Linked DNA regions of Homo sapiens: region 1 is linked to region 2. The links come from fine-mapping of genetic effects on gene expression. A gene starts in region 2. The other region holds a variant in brackets. All regions are shown on one strand. Distances are between the middles of the regions.

Region 1 (8,334 bases), 130 kb after region 2:
ACTCCATCTTAAAAAATATATATACAAAAATTAGTCAGGCATGATGACTATGTGTAGTCTCAGCTTCTTGGAAGGCTGAAGTGGGGGAGGATCGCTTGAACCCAGGAGGTTGAGGCTGCAGTGAGCCAAGATCGCACCACTGCATTCCAGTTCAGGAAACAGAGTGAGGCTGTCTCAAAAAAAAAAAAAAAAAAAGGTACTCTGGGCACCATAAACTTTTCAATGTGCTATGAATGCTTCACATTTACTACATGAAGTAAGTATTTACTGATTTTTCTAGCGCTCACTAGCCCTTCCTTTTTGGAAACAGCACTGTAGTATCAACCCCACTGTCTCAGACCTGATCGGACACCATCCAGCATGAGCAATCGGAATAATCTATTACCCTCACCACAGTCATTGCTTTGAAGACAGACATGTAACTCAAGTCAAGATAAGAAGTTATTTCCAGGACCTTTGTTATAGCTACTGAAAAAGAGGCAAATCTTCATGACCTTGGATTTGGCAATGATTTCTTAAATATGACCCCTACAGCACAAGGAACTTTAAAAGAAAAAGTAGATAAAGGGACTTCACCAAAATTAAAAACTTCTGTGTATCAAAGGACACTATCAAGAGAGTACAAAGACAGCCCATAGGTCATCAAAATGGCAGACTAGGAAGTTTCAAGGTCTCATTCCTTCATAGAAACATCAGAAAAACAAGTAGTAACTGTCTGAACCAAATTTGACAGTTTTAGAAAAGAGTCAAAGGTTTACAAGCAAATATCCAATGAAGAAAAAGCCATCTTCAAAACAGAAGGAAAGTTCTGTGGTGTTTTACTCAACCTTGCCCTACCCCCTCTCCAGCATGGCAGTGTTTTTTGTCTTAAAGCAGTAGAAGCCCAATTCCCAGCTCCCTCCCTCAAAGAGCAAAGCAGACCTTATTTGCAAATTATCGTACATATCTGTTCTACCCTGTCTGCGGGGGTATTTGAAGGACAGACATAAGGTGCATGTTTCTATTTCAACCTAATACAAAACTCAGGCAGAGAAAGCAGCAGGTATTGCTAATGAAAGCTGCAAAGCAGACTACAGACTAACAGGCACTTGGGGCAAGAGATTACAGATAGATGCCCACAGAAGTTGAGGTGAAACTCTTTGGCAAATTAGGACATTCCAAAGCAACATGTATATGGTGAAATTTAGAAAGCCATATGAATGCCAAGGCAAAATGTATGATCATACAAGACCTAGGCCGGGCGTGGGGGCTCATGTCTGTAATCCCTGCACTTTGGGAGGCTGAGGCGTGTGGATCACTTGAGGTCAGGAGTTCGAGACCAGCCTGGCCAACATGGTGACACCCCGTCTCTACTAAAAATACAAAAAATTAGCCAGGCGTAGTGGCGGGCACCTGTAGTCCCAGCTACTTGGGAGGCTGAGGCAGGAGAATGACTTGAACCCTGGAGGCGGAGGTTGCAGTGAGCCGAGGTCACACCACTGCACTCCAGCCTGGGCAACAGAGCAAGACTCTGTCTCAAAAAAAAAAAAAAAAACCCTAAATATAAATTGCCAACCAAGAATTCTGTAAATGGCAACACTGTCTTTCAAAAAATAGGGAAAAACATTGGCCGGGCGAGGCGGCTCACACCTGTAATCCCAGCACTTTGGGAGGCCGAGGCGGGCGGATCACAAGGTCAGGAGATTGAGACCATCCTGGCTAACACAGTGAAACCCCGTCTCTACTAAAAATACAAAAAAAAAAAAAAAAATTAGCCAGGCGTGGTGGCGGGCACCTGTAGTCCCAGCTACTCACGAGGCTGAGGCAGGAGAATGGTGTGAACCCAGGAGGCGGAGCTTGCAGTGAGCTGAGATCACGCCACTGCACTCCAGCCTGGGCGACAGAGCGAGACTCCATCTCAAAAAAAAAAAAAAAAAAGGAAAAAAATCAAGACATTCTCAGATAAACAAAAGCTGAGGGAGGCTCATTACCACTATACAGACCTTGTAAGAAATGCTAAAAGGGAATTCTTCAGTCCGGGCACAGTGGCTCACGCCTGTAATCCCAGCACTTTGGGAGGCCGAAGTGGGTTGGTCACGAGGTCAGGAGTTCGACACCAGCCTGGCCAAGATGGTGAAACCCGTCTCTACTAAAAATACAAAAATTAGCCAGGTGCAGTAGCAGGCACCCCTAATCCCAGCTAGTCAGGAGGCTGAGGCAGGAGTATCGCTTCAACTTGGAGTGGGGGTTGGTTGCAGTGAGCTGAGATCATGCCATGGCACTCAGCACTCCAGCCAGGGCAACAGAGTGAGACTCCATTTTTACAAAAAAAAAAAAAAAAAAAGGAATTCTTCAGAATGAATTTTTTTTTTTTTTGAAATGGAGTCTCGCTCTGTTGCCAAGGCTGGAATGCAGTTGAGCGATCTCGGCTCACTGCAAGCTCCACCTCCTGGGTTCATGCCATTCTCCTGCCTCAGCTTCCCGAGTAACTGGGACTACAGGCGCCCGCCACCACGCCCGGCTAATTTTTGTGGTTTTTTGTTTTTTGTTTTTGAGACAGAGTCTTGCTGTCTCCCAGGCTGGAGTGCAGTGGCGTGATCTTGGCTCACTGCAAGCTCCGCCTCCTGGGTTGACGCCATTCTCCTGCCTCAGCCTCCCGAGTAGCTGGGACTACAGGTGCCCACCGCAATGCCAGCTAATAGTTTTTTTTGTTTTGTTTTGTTTTTTGTATTTTTAGTGGAGACGGGGTTTCACCATGTTAGCCAGGATGGTCTCGATCTCCTGACCTCGTGATCCACCCACCTCAGCCTCCCAAAGTGCTGGGATTACAGGCGTGAGCCACCGCACCCGGCCTTTTGTGTTTTTAGTAGAGACGGGGTTTCACTGTGTTAACCAGGATGGTCTCGATCTCCTGACCTCGTGATCCGCCCGCCTTAGCCTCCCAAAGTGTCGGGATTACAGGCGTGAGCCACTGCGCCCGGCCCAGAATGAATTTTTAAAAGCTAGACGTGAAGCCATGTGAAGAAATAAAGATCTCGGCCAGGTGCGGTGGCTCACACCTGAGGTCAGGAGTTCAAGACCAGCCTGGCCAACATGGCAAAACCCCATCTCTACTAAAAATACAAAAATCAGCCACGTGTGGTGGCGTACAACTACAGTCCCAGCTACTCAGGAGCCTGAGGCAAGAAAATCTTTTGAACCCGGGAGGCAGAGGTTACAGTCAGCTGAGATTGCGCCATTGCACTCCAGCCTGGGCGAAAGAGCGAGACTCCATCCCAAAAAAAAAAAAAAGAAAGAAAGATCTCTGGTAAAGGCAAATACAGGGGCAACTGTAAAAACTAGCATTATTGCAATTTTGCTTTGTAACTCCTACTTTTCACTTTCAATGTGATCTAAAAGACAGATGCATAAAAAATTATTAATCTAGGTTCCTGAGATACGATTTACAAAGATGTAATCCATGACTTAACAGAAAAGGGAAGAGAAAGGAGCTGGATAGGAGCAGAGATTTGTATACTATGGAACTTAAGTTAGTATAAATTCAAATTAGATTATAACTGTGAGATGTTAAGTGTAATTCCCATGGTAACTGCAAAGAACATATCTTTAGAATATACACATAAGAAAATAAGGTTGCCTGCTTATGCACTAGAAAGAAAAAGAAAATGAGAAGGGGCTAGGCACAGTGGCTCATGCTTGTTGTCCTAGCAC[G/A]ACAAGCACTGGGAGGCTGAGGCAGGAGGATTCCTTGGGCTCAGGGGTTTGAAACCACCATTGGCCATATAGTGAGACTCTCTCTACTTCAAAAAAAAAAAAAAAGAAAGAAAGAAAATGAGAAGAAAGTCAAAACATTTTCACAACAGGCCAGTGGCTAACATCTGTAATCCCAGCACTTCAGGAAGCCGATTGCTTGAGGCCAGGAGTTTGAGACCAGCCTAGGCAATATAGCAAGACCCCATCTCTATGAAAAATTTAAAAAACAAAAAAGGCAGGTGGCACATGTCTGCACTTCCAGTTACTTGCAAAGAATGAAGCGGGAGGATTGCTTGAGTCCAGGAATCCAAGTCTGCAGTGAGCTATGATCTCATCACTGTTCTCCAATCTGGACAACACAGCAAGACCCTCCCTCTTAAAAAGAAAAAATAAATAAAAAATTAAAAAAGCAGGCCAGGCCTGGTGGCTTACGCCTGTAATCCCAGCACTTTGGGAGGCCGAGGCGGGAGGATCACCTGAGGTCTGGAGTTCGAGACCAGCCTGACCAACATGGAGAAACCCCGTCTCTACTAAAAATACAAAATTAGCTGGGCATGGTGGCGCATGCCTGTAAATTCAGCTACTCAGGAGGCTGAGGCAGGAGAATCACTTGAACCCAGGAGGCGGAGGCTGCGGTGAGCTGAGATTATGCCATTGCACTCCAGCCTGGGCAACAAGAACGAAACTCCGTCTCAAAAAATAAATAAATAAATAATAAAAAATAAAAATAAAAAAATAAAGCGTGGGCCAGGCGTGATGGCTTACGCCTATAATCCCAGCACTTTGGGAAGCCAAGGCAGGAGGATCACCTGAGGTCAGGAGTTCGAGACCAGCCTGACCAACATAGAGAAACCCCATCTCTATTAAAAATACAAAATTAGCCAGGCATGGTGGCAAGCCTGTAATCCCAGCTACTTGGGAGGCAGAGGCAGGAAAATGCCTGAACCCGGGAGGCGGAGGTTGCAGTGAGCTGAAATCATGCCACTGCACTCCAGCCTGGGCAACAAGAGTGAAACTCCGTCTCAAAAAAAAAAAAAAAAAAAAAAAAGCGGGGGAGGGGGCAGAAAGTGGCTAATGCCTGTAATCCCAACACTTTGGAAGGCTAAGGCAGGTAGATTGTTTGAACCCAGTTTGAGACCAGCCTGGGCAACATGGCAAAACCCTATCTCTACAAAAAATACAAAAATTAGCCAGGCATGGTGGTGGCACACCTATACTACCAGCTACTCAGGAGACTGGGACAGGAGGATCACTTGAGCCCAAAGTTGCAGTGAGCTGAGATTGTGGCACTGCACTATTTTGCTCACCAAAGCCTAGGCAACAGTCTCATGCTCTCAAAAAAAAAAAATTTTTTTTCACTACCAAAAAAAAAAAAATCAGCTAAACATAAAAGTAGTAGCAAAATGGCAAAAGTCCTTATCAGTAATTACTTTAAATGTAAATACTTTAAACTCTCTAATCACAAAATATTGGCAGAATATATATACATATACACACACACACACACACACACACAGAGAGAGAGAGAGAGACACAGAGAGAGAGAGAGACAGAGTTTTGCTTGACACCCAGGCTGGAGTGCAATGGCTCACTGCAACCACCGCCTCTCAAGTTCAAGAGATTCTCCTGTCTCAGCCTCCCAAGAAGCTGAGATTACAGGTGCCCGCCAGTACACCCAGCTAATTTTTGTATTTTTAGTACAGACGAGGTTTCACCATGTTGGCCAGGCTGGTCTCAAACTCCAAACCTCAGGTGATCCACCCGCCTCAGCCTCCCAAAGGGCTGGGATTACAGGCGTGAGCCACTGCGCCCAGCCTAGGATACATTTTTTAAAAACTGTAATCCCAGCTACTCGGGAGTCTAAGGCAGGAGAATCACTTGAACCTGGGAGGCGAAGGTTGCAGTGAGCCAAGATCATGCCACTGCACTCCAGCCTGGGCAACAAGAGCAAAACTTTGTTTCAAAAAATATATATATAAATATTATAAAGCCTAAATGCACATCAATAGAGACCCTATCTCTACAAAAAAATACGAAAATTAACTGGGTGTGGTAGCAGGTGTCTGTAGTCCCAAATACTGCAGAGGTTGAGGTAGGAGGATCCCGAGGCTTGATCCCAGGAGGCAGAGGTTGCTTAAGCCAAGATCACACCACTGCACTCCAGCCTGGGCAACAGAGCGAGACTCAGTCTCAAAAAAAAAAAAAAAAAAAAAAAAGAAAGAAAAAAAAATACTATGCGGCCCTAAGAATAAATAAAGTAGCTATGTTAATTGATACAGGATAAGCTATTATGTATTAAGTTTTAAAAACATGTGCAAGGCCGGGTGCGGTGGCTCACGCCTGTAATCCCAGCACTTTGGGAGGCCTAGGCAGGCGGATCACGAGGTCAGGAGATCGAGGCCATCCTGGCTAACACAGTGAAACCCTGTCTCTACTTAAAATACAAAAAAATTAGCTGGGCATGGCAGTGTGCGCCTGCAGTCCCAGCTGCTGGGGAGGCTGAGGCAGGAGAATGGTGTGAACCTGGGAGGCGGAGCTTGCAGTGGGCTGAGATCGCGCCACTGCACTCCAGCCTGGGTGACAGAGTAAGACTCCATTTCAAAAAAAAAAAAAAGTGTGCAAAATATTTGTAACCTGATATCTGTGCAAAACAGAAAAGAATATATACAACAAAGTTAGAGGACTGACACTTCCCAATTCCAAAACTCACCACAAAGCTACAGTAATCAAGACAGTGTGGCACTGACATAGTATAGACATACAGACCAAGGAAACAGAATTAAGAGTCTATAAATAGGCCAGACACAGTGGCTCACACCTGTAATTCCAATACTTTGGGAGGCTGAGGCAGAAGGATGGCTTGAGCCCAGAAGTTTCAGACCATCCTGGGCAAATATTGAGACCTTGTCTTCACAAATTTTTTTTTTTTTTTTTTTTGAGATGGAGTCTCGCTCTGTCGCCCAGGCTGGAGTGCAATGGTGCAATCTCGGCTCACTGCAACCTCCGCCTCCAGGGTTCAAGCAATTCTTCTGCCTCAGCCTGCCAAGTAGCTGGGACTACAGGCACGTGCCACCACGCCCAGCTAATTTTTGTATTTTTTTAGTGGAGACGGGGTTTCACCATGTTGGCCAGGGTGGTCTCGATCTCCTGACCTTGTGATCCGCCCGCCTGGTCCTCCCAAAGTGCTGGGATTACAGGCGTGAGCCATTGCGCCCGGCCTATAAATTTTTTTTTTTTTTCTGAGACCTTATCTCACTCTGTCACCCAAGCGGGAGTGCAGTGGCACATTCTCGGCTCACTGTAACCACTGCTTCCCTGGCTCCAGCCATCCTCCCACCTCAGCCTCCTGAGTAGCTGGGACTACAAATGTGCACTACCATGCTCGGCTAATTTTTTTGTGTATTTCTGGTAGACCTAGGGTTTCGTTATGTTGCCCGGGCTGGTCTCAAACTCCTGATTCAGGCGATTACCCCGCCTCCACCTCTCAAAGTACTGGGATTACAGGTGTGAGCCACCCTGCCCAGCCTACAAAATTTTTTTTTTAATTAGTCAGGTCCAGCTAGGCGTGGTGGCTCACGCTTGTAACCCCAGCACTTTGGGAGGCTGATGCGGGCAGATCATCTGAGGTCAGGAATTCAAGACCAGGTAGGCCAACATGGTGAAACCCCGTCTCTACTAAAAATACAAAAATTAGCCAGGCGTGGTAGCACATGCCTGCAATCCCAGCTACTCAGGAGGCTGTGGCAGAAGGATCACTTGAACCCAGAAGGCAGAGGTTGCAGTGAGCGGAGATTGTGTCATGTTACTGCACTCCAGCCTGGGTGACAGAGACGGTCTCAAAAAAAAAAAAAAAGGCCAGGTTCGGTGGCTCACACTCACACCTGTAATCCCAGCACTTTGGGAGGCCAAGGCGGGCAGATCACGAGGTCAAGAGATCGAGACCAGCCTGGCCAATGTGGTGAAATCCCGTCTCTACTCAGAATACAAAAATTAGCTGGGCGTGGTGGCACACGCCTGTAGTCCCAGCTACTCAGGAGGCTGAGGGAGGAGAATCACTTGAATCCGGGAGGTGGAATTTGCAGTGAGCCAAGATCGCTCCACTGCACTCCAACCTGGGCGACAGGGCAAGACTCCATCTCAAAAAAAAAAAAAAATTAGCAAGGTGTGATGGCACGCCCCTAAGGTCCCAGTTACCTAGGAGGCTAAAGTGGGAGGATCACTTGAGCATGGGAGTTTCAGCCTGCAGTAAGCCATGATTGCACCACTGCACTCCAGCCTGGGCAACAGAGCAAGACCCTGCCTCAAAAAAAAAGAAAAGAAGAAAAGGTAAGCTGCGCACATTGGCTCATGCCTATAATCGCAGCACTTTTTGAGGCCAAGGTCAGAGGATCACTTAAGACCAGGAGTTCAAGACCAACCTGGGCAACACAGCAAAACCCCCATCTCTACAATTTTTTGGTTTAAATGAAAAGACATCCCACAGAATGGGAGAAAATTTGTGCAAATTACATATTTGGTAAGTGACTTGTATCTAAAATATATAAAAAATGATTTCAACTCAGTAACAAAAAGAAAAATAAGCCAGGAGCAGTGGCACACGCCTGT
Region 2 (8,334 bases):
CTCACCATAGTCACCATCTGAATGGTAGCCATCTTCGGATCGGTCACTGTTCCTTCTTTCACGCTCTCTCTGAGTTACAATAAACAAAATCACAATTAACATCACCCTGTACTCTTTGAAACAGACCCTCCACTCCTAGAAATTATCCTTAGCAGGAAGTGTACAGAGATTACACAAGCACTCCATGGTAATGTTCACTGCAATTTTTTTTTTTTGAGACAGGGGTCTCACTATGTTACCCAGGCTGGTCTGAACTCCTGGCCTCAAATGACCCTCCTGCTATGGCCTCCCAAAGTGCTGGGATTATAGGCACACCCAGCCTGCTGTGTTTTCTTTTTTTTTTTTTTTGAGACAGTTTCACTCTTATTGCCCAGACTGGAGTGCAGTGGTGCGATGATCTCTGCTCACTGCAACCTCTGCCTCCTGGGTTCAAGCAATTCTCCTCCTTCAGCCTCCCGAGTAGTTGGGACTATAGGCACTTGCCACCACGCCCAGCTAATTTTTTGTATTTTTAGTAGAGACAGGGTTTCACCATGTTAGCCAGGATGGTCTCAATCTTCTGACCTCATGATCCGCCCGCCTCGGCCTCCCAAAGTGCTGGGATTACAGGCGTAAGCCACCGTGCCGGCCTTCTGGTTTTTTTTTTTTTTGAGACAGAGTCTCCCTCTGTCGTCCATGCTGGAGTGCAATGGCATGATCTCAGCTCACTGCAACCACTGCCTCCCAGGCTCAAGCAATTCTCGTACCTCAGCCTCCTGAGTAGCTGAGGTCGCACCACTGCACTCCAGCCTGGGTGACAAGACTAAAAAGCTGTCTCAAAAAAAAAAAAAAAAAAAAAAAAAAAAGATATATCAAGATGACCAAAACAACAACTTATATTTATTATTTTTCATTATTATTATTTTAAAGACAGGGTCTCCCTATGGTGCCCAGGCTGGCCTCTAACTCCTGGGCTCAAGGGATCCTCCTGCCTCGGCCTCCCAAATTGTTGGGATTACAGGTGTGAGCCACTGTGCCTGGCCAACAACTTATATTTATCATTCATTTCAAAACACAGAACTAATATGTTATCATAACCCCATTGTTTCATCTTTAAAATGGGAATAACACCTACCTTATCAGGTTGTACTGAGACCTAAATGAATTCATGAAGTCAAGTGCTCAAAAGTACATGGTGATCCCTATGTAAACCCTGGCCATTATTTCTTTTCTTTTTTTTTTTTTTTTGAGATGGAGTCTTGCTTTGTCACCCATGCTGGAGAGCACTGATACAATCTCAGCTCACTGCAACCTCCGCCTCCCAGGTTTCAAGTGATTCTCTTACCTCAGTCTCCCAAGTAGCTGGGATTACAGGCGCCCACCACCCCACTCAGCTAATTTTTGTATTTTTAGTAGAGACGGGTTTTACTATGTTGGCCAGACTGGTCTTAAACTCCTGACCTCAAGTGATCTGGCCGCCTTGGCCTCCCAAAGTGATAGGATTATGGGAAGGGGCCACTGGACCTGGCTGCCTGGCTGTTATTTCTATTACTATAAGGCTCAGAGTGTTTTGGGGGGTTATACAGCCGCTGGTCACTCACCTCTGGACTGTCATAGTCTCGGTAGTCATCATATCTATCACCCCTCCGATCATCACTAGATCTTTTGTAATCTGAGTCCCTCCGCCTGCTTCGGGATTCACGCTCATCACGGTCATCCCTGTCTATGATGGAACCGTATCTTCCACTACGCTCTGTTCTACTCACTCTGCCAGGGAAAATAATTTTCATTCTAAAGTCAGTCACATTTTGTACCTTTAAAAGACATAGTTAAAAATACACACGGCCCACAGATCAGTTTATAAGATAATCCAAATAGTTTAAAGTGTTAAAAAGTATTACCAAATTCCAGTTTACTAAGATAACCACTGGGAAAATACCTACATCCCTAAATGTAATGATAATTCTCAGGAATGTATGCTAAATCTGAAATAAACATTTGGGTTGAATATTTCTAAGAAAGAGTCATGTTGTCCAAGTTTATTTTTGCATTTTGTCAAGCCTAGAGTCTACATATTATCCCTTCATCCCTGATTCAGATCTTAGTGACCAAAAACAGGAAGAAAGCAGTTACTCGAATTTCACCCAATTTTAAAGGGTGAAATTAAGTACATCCCTGGCTCATCTACTCTCAAGGGTATCATGCCTACTGGAAAATGGACCAAAAACCTGGATGAACTAAGTTAGTCTTTTTTTTCCCCATCAGGCAACTTAGTTGTCTGTCAGATACAACTGGATAGTTACCCAAAACTAGCACCCCTTAAGAGAACACTCTTCTTATAACATCTGGTTTATTTTTGGCTAAAGGGCAGCACTGGGCTTCATGGGAAAACCTAATAACAAGAGGCTTAAACCTATTTGACCACAGATAAAATACACCTTTTGTAAACTGTTTACCAGATTCATAAAACTGCTGTGCAATCATAAGGCAAAGGAAAGGTTTATAAGGGCTTCATTTAGAATATACAAATTTAATAAAAAGAATCAAAGGAAATATGGGACTGAGACACCCCAAAGGGGTAAATGTTAATTTAGTAAGCTATTTAGAACCACAGACTGCTGACACAGCATTAAAATACCATGTGACATGAACATCTCCTAAGGTCCCTCAGCCTGTCAATGTGATCTACCACAGGGACTGACCTCAATACTAAAAAGGCAGATGGCTGAATAAGGGTGTGTGTTTAAATCAAATGGTCTGAGAGCATGTACCCATAGGTGACACAATAGCCAAATGCTCTCATCTTAATTTTCCACTAATTCTTTGGCTCTTTCTTTCTTCATGTAACACACAGTCCCAAGCTTCTCAGCTCTCTAAGTCTGGATCATCTTGCTATTCAGGGAACAATAACAAGAAATGGCATTCATTGATTGCTTACCACAGCCAGGAACTGTGCTAAGTGCCAGACTGTATGATCTCCTGGATTCTGCAAAGGTTGCTGTCCACACAGGGAACCTTCAGTGACCCACTCTACCCTGCCCTTCTTTGCCTAAAATTCTTTCTTATCCTTCAGCTTCCTTCCAGAGAATATTTTCTCCAGGAAGCTTTCCTGGCTGTGAACAAGAAAAAGACATACTTCCTATGTGTTCTAAGAGCACCCTACACTTTATCACAGCATGTTCACACAGTACTTTAATTCTCTCACTAGACTGTAGTTTGTGACAACAGGATCATAAAGGTGTTCGTTAGCAATGCCTGGCGCAAAACACTCATATATTAGTTTGATAAACTATTTTAAACAAGGAGTTCAGTCCCCACTGAAATGTTGAGATCAAAGCCACGTACTGTAGTAACTTACCTTTTGTCTGAACCCATTGTCCCACTGAAGATTTAGCACACAGCTCCAAAAGGTTCAAATTTTATTTTTTCTAGGAGACAAGAGAGATTAATTGCTATAAATCTCAGAGATCACTTAAGTCAGCAGCTCCATAGCTTGGATACTACTGAGGCTGGGATTTCATCAAACCTTCAAATCATTGACAGTGATTATCTAAGGTGGGGAAGTGGTGGGGACAAACTGTCAACGTTAAAATCGTGCTAACATTTTGTTAACAATGAGCAAAACCGGAAGATTAAGCATATTTTAAAATATTAGATTCCAGATTTAACAGAATCATAATACGGAGCAAGCAGAAGACTCCTTCCCTGCTCCTACCTTAGAATTACAAAGCAAAAAGGGCAGAGCTACAATCAGCTCCTTGGTTTTGTATCAAAGCAACTCCGTGGGATAGTTGACCGTTAAAACATTAATCCAAGTGTCTTCATTAATACAAGGAGCAACATGAAATTCAAACACTTCTGATGAAAAATGTAAAACCTCGTAGAAGCTGGGATACTGAGCTGACTGAAATCTACTACATTAATAACGTATCGCATAAGACAAGAGCAAAGCTAGAAACGACCTAATTCCTAGGTAACAATAACCACCACGTCTTGAGCCAGTTCTTATGACTACAAACCACTGAGTAGTGAACAGCCCGGCCCCCCGCCCCCCGTTGGTAATAAGACATCACACTGCTGGACCGCGTTCGATGAGCGCGAGGTCCGAAAAATCAGTTCCAGTAGTCTCTGGAAGCCTAGTCTAGAGCGAATGCTCAACGATTTGTTGAAATTAATAAATGAAAAAGAACCACTGGGGGGAAACAAGTCCCGGGGCATATTCACTGGTGCCGCCCCTTGTCTCCCGGGCGGTGCCGGCACCCACCTCCGTGGGGTCTCGCGGCCGAGATGGCGGCGTCACGGCCTGCTCGACCGACTCCAGCGTCCGGCCTGCCCTCCCCGCACATGCCCCTCCCGCCTCCCAAGAGGTTCCAAACCCGCAGATGGGCGATCACCGAACAGCTTTTCGGAGAGGGCGATTCAGTTGCAGTTGAGCGGGGGATGGCGGCCAGAGACTGCCAGGGAGCTCCCAAGGAGTGCCCGAGGGACAGGCGACGGCTCCACTGCTCCGTTGGGCTGAAGATTAGGGGACGTGTATCCACAAGGGGCAAAGTCACAGCCAGAAAGAAGCAGGCCCAAGGCTGAGCTGGCTGGACACCCTCTGGAAACTGACAGAGCTGGCAACAAGGAAGGGCGCGGCCCTCCAACGCCTGGGGTAATTTAGCCCCTCTACAGAACCGGCTGGAGCTGATCAGTCGCCTCCGGCAGCTGACAAGGGAGGCTTGGGGGCCAGCCCAAATGGCAAGAACCTACCGTCGTTACAGACAGCCGCCGCACTTACCCCAAGGAGAGACCGAAGCAGCAGTAGCGGTTCTGCGCCCCAGAACCTCCAACAAGGTTCGGCGGCTACACAAAATGGCGCCTCCGCCGACGGCCGTCTCCTACCCACAGTACCTCACGCTTATCCCCTCCCCCTGTCACCCGCCTCCTGCGGAGAAGTCCAATCCTCGAAGCGGCCTGGCTGTGCGAGGGCTGCCGGGAAATGTGGTCGCCAGACCATCCTGTCACTTAGGACGCTCTGTGTTAATGTCTTGCAATTCTCTTCTAAATCACTACAGAGTTGTCGATCGGCTTTTGCAGACCTGGATTAGTTTTTAGGGCTCCTATTAGGCATGTTAATAATTCTTTGCTTTTGCTACTAGCGCCGTAGAGAGTACAGTTTGCTTTCACTGGCACGGTGTAAAACATTGTCTAATTCTACTTCAAAAGGAGACCGTGCGTGAAGTGGTGGCTCACTCACAAGCCAGCATTTTGGGAGGCCGAGGCAGGAGGATCGCTTGAGGCCAGGAGTTCGAGACCAGCCTGGGAAACACAGTGAGATCCTATCTCTACAAAAAATAAAATTAACTGAGCATGGTGGCGTGCACCTCTTGTCCCAGCTACTCAGGAGCTGAGGTGAGAGGTTCGCTTGGGCCCAAGAGGTCGAGGCTGCAGTGAGCTGTGATCTCGTCACAGCACTCCAGCCTGGGGACAATGCGAGAAACTGTCGCTAAAAAATAAAAAGGAGGCCGGTGCTGGGCGCGGTGGCTCACTCCTGTAATCCCAGCACTTTGGGAGGCCAAGGCGGGCGGATCACAAGGTCAGGAGATCGAGACCATCCTGGCTAACACGGTGAAATCCCGTCTCTACTAAAAATACAAAAAAATTAGCTGGGCATGGTGGCGGGCGCCTGTAGTCCCAGCTACTTGGGCGGCTGAGGCAGGAGAATGGTGTGAACCCGGGAGGCGGAGCTTGCAGTGAGCCGAGATTGCGCCACTGCACTCCAGCCTGGGCAACAGAGTGAGACTCTGTTTCAAAAAAAAAAAAAAAAAAGGCTGGACGCAGTGGCTCACGCCTGTAATCCCAGCACTTTGGGAGGCCGAGGCAAGTGGATCACGAGGTCAGGAGCTCAAGACCAGCCTGACCAATATGGTGAAACCGCGTCTCTACTAAAAATACAAAAATTAGCCGGGCATGGTGGCATGCACCTGTAGTTCCAGCTACTAGGGAGGCTGAGGCAGGAGAATCACTTGAACCAGGGAGGCAGAGGTTGCAGTGAGCTGAGATCGTGCCACTGCACTCCAGCCTGGGTGACAGAGCAAGACTCAGTCTCAAAATAATAATAATAATAATAATAATAATAATAATAATAATAATAATAAATAAATAAATAAAAAGGAGGGGCCAGGCATGATGGCTCATGCCTGTAATCCAAGCACTGTGGGAGGCCGAGGCAGGTGGATCAGCTGAGCTCAGGAGTTCGAGACCAGCCTGGCCAACATGGCTAAACCCCGTCTCTACTAAAAATACAAAAATTAGCTGGGTGTGGTGGCGCACACCTATAATCCCAGCTACTTGGGAGGCTGAGGTAGGAGAATCGCTTGAACCCAAGAGGCGGAGGTTGCAGTGAGCCGAGATTGCTCTACCGCACTCCAGCTTGTGCAACACAGCAAGACTCTATCTCAAAAAAAAATAAAAATAAAAAATAAATTAAAATGAGGAACATTAGTTGATCGCTTTACTAGATGCTATATTATTGCCCTAGATGCTTTGCAAACATTTTTGTTTGTTTGTTTGTTTGAGATGGAGTTTTGCTCCTGTTGCCCAGGCTGGAGTGCAATGGCACAGTTTCAACTCACTGCAAACTCTGCCTCCCAGGTTCAAGTGATTCTCCTGCCTCAGCCTCCCAAACAGCTGGGATTACAGGCACCCGCCACCACACCCAGCTAATTTTTGTATTTTTAGTAGAGATGGGGTTTCACCATGTTGACCAGGCTGGTTTCGAACTCCTGACCTCAGGTGATCCACCTGCCTCAGCCTCCCAAAGTGCTAGGATTACAGGCATGAGCCACCGCACCCAGCCAGAACTGATTTTTCAGGTCATACAAATTGAAAACTGTGCCTATACCATTAGTTACAGAAAGTTATACATCAGTTACAGAAAACTGTGCCTATACCATTTTCTTCTCTCTCTGGAAAACAAATCTTTCAAGAATAAGTGGAGGGATGTCAGTGTATATATCTATATATAGGTATATACACAATACATATATAGACGAAAAGGTAGAAATATAATATATGTGGTGTGTGTGTATTTAGAGAGGAAATATATACAATTTATGGGGAAGCATATATGCAAAATATCAGAAAAGAGTACATGCATTAATGAAATTTAAAAGTTAACATTGATGACATCACTGCAAACCCTACAATGGATGATGCAGATGCCAAGAATCTAGAACTCACTAGACTTCATAGCCACTAGCCGTTGCCTGCCTTGTCCCCAAAGCAGTTCAACAAGCACCTTTGGATATTCCTGAGGTGCTTGCTGAGCTGGGCTTACCACCAGTCATAAAAGCTATATAGCTATTCACAAACCTCAAAATAATCTTTTTTTTTTTTGAGACGGGGTCTTACTCTGTCACCCAGGTTGGAGTGCAATGTCATGATCTCGGTTCATTGCAACCTCGACCTATCCAGGTCAAGAGATCCTCCCACCTCAGCCTCCTGAGTAGCTGAGACCACAGGTGTGCACCACCATGCCCAACTAATTTTTTGTATTTTTGGGGTAGAGATGGAGTTTCACCATGTTGCCCTGGCTGGTCTCGAACTCCTGAGTTCAAGCGATCCTCCTGCCTCAACCTCCCAAAGTGCTGGGATTACAAGCGTGAGCCACCATGCCCAGCCTGCAAAATAATTCTTAAACTTGAAGAGGTCCCTGGCAAAAAAAGATGGATTTCATCCATAGGTAAGTGCCATCCTCCAAATTATCTCTGGTAGCTGATCTTCTTTTAGACATTGGCCTGTTGAGCTCCAGAGCTCTGCTGCCAAAGGCCTGTCTGGTAGCTGATGTAAGAAAAAGAAAGACATCAGAGTGAGTTGCTCTTTGTTTTAAATAAAGCCACATATGTTCAATAAGGGATAGTCCTTTAAGATTGTCTTTTCTAGCCCTCTCCCTCTCCCTCTCCCCACGGTCTCCCTCTCTCTCTCTTTCCACGGTCTCCCTCTGATGCCGAGCCGAAGCTGGACAGTACTGCTGCCATCTCGGCTCACTGCAACCTCCCTGCCTGATTCTCCTGCCTCAGCTTGCCGAGTGCCTGCGATTGCAGGTGCGCACCGCCACGCCTGACTGGTTTTCGTATTTTTTTGGTGGAGACGGGGATTCGCTGTGTTGGCCGGGCTGGTCTCCAGCTCCTAACCGTGAGTGATCCGCCAGCCTCGGCCTCCCGAGGTGCCGGGATTGCAGACGGAGTCTCGTTCACTCAGTGCTCAATGGTGCCCAGGCTGGAGTGCAGTGGCATGATCTCGGCTCGCTACAACCTCCACCTCCCAGCAGCCTGCCTTGGCCTCCCAAAGTGCCGAGATTGCAGCCTCTGC

What was found. PIP is the estimated chance that this variant, and not a neighbour inherited with it, causes the effect. A credible set is the group of variants that fine-mapping cannot tell apart.
Region 1: its variant is the best candidate, but not a certain one, in a credible set for the expression of RBM5 in whole blood (INTERVAL, PIP 0.53).

Annotation. Positions count from the first base shown.
Region 1 is chr3:49,952,772-49,961,105 of GRCh38, reverse strand. The region is part of intron 1 of RBM6 (RNA binding motif protein 6); the gene reads right to left. Among named protein-coding and RNA genes, the nearest start is that of RBM6, 17 kb to the right of the region's middle. The variant G/A (reference allele first, on the strand shown) is at 3,691.
Region 2 is chr3:50,085,455-50,093,788 of GRCh38, reverse strand. It overlaps RBM5 (RNA binding motif protein 5), which reads right to left and starts at 4,870. Exons shown (of 25, transcript NM_005778.4): 1 at 4,760-4,870; 2 at 3,338-3,407; 3 at 1,581-1,746; 4 at 1-69. The coding sequence starts at 3,354. RefSeq lists enhancers at 3,831-4,421, 4,583-4,692, 4,733-4,902, 4,422-5,013.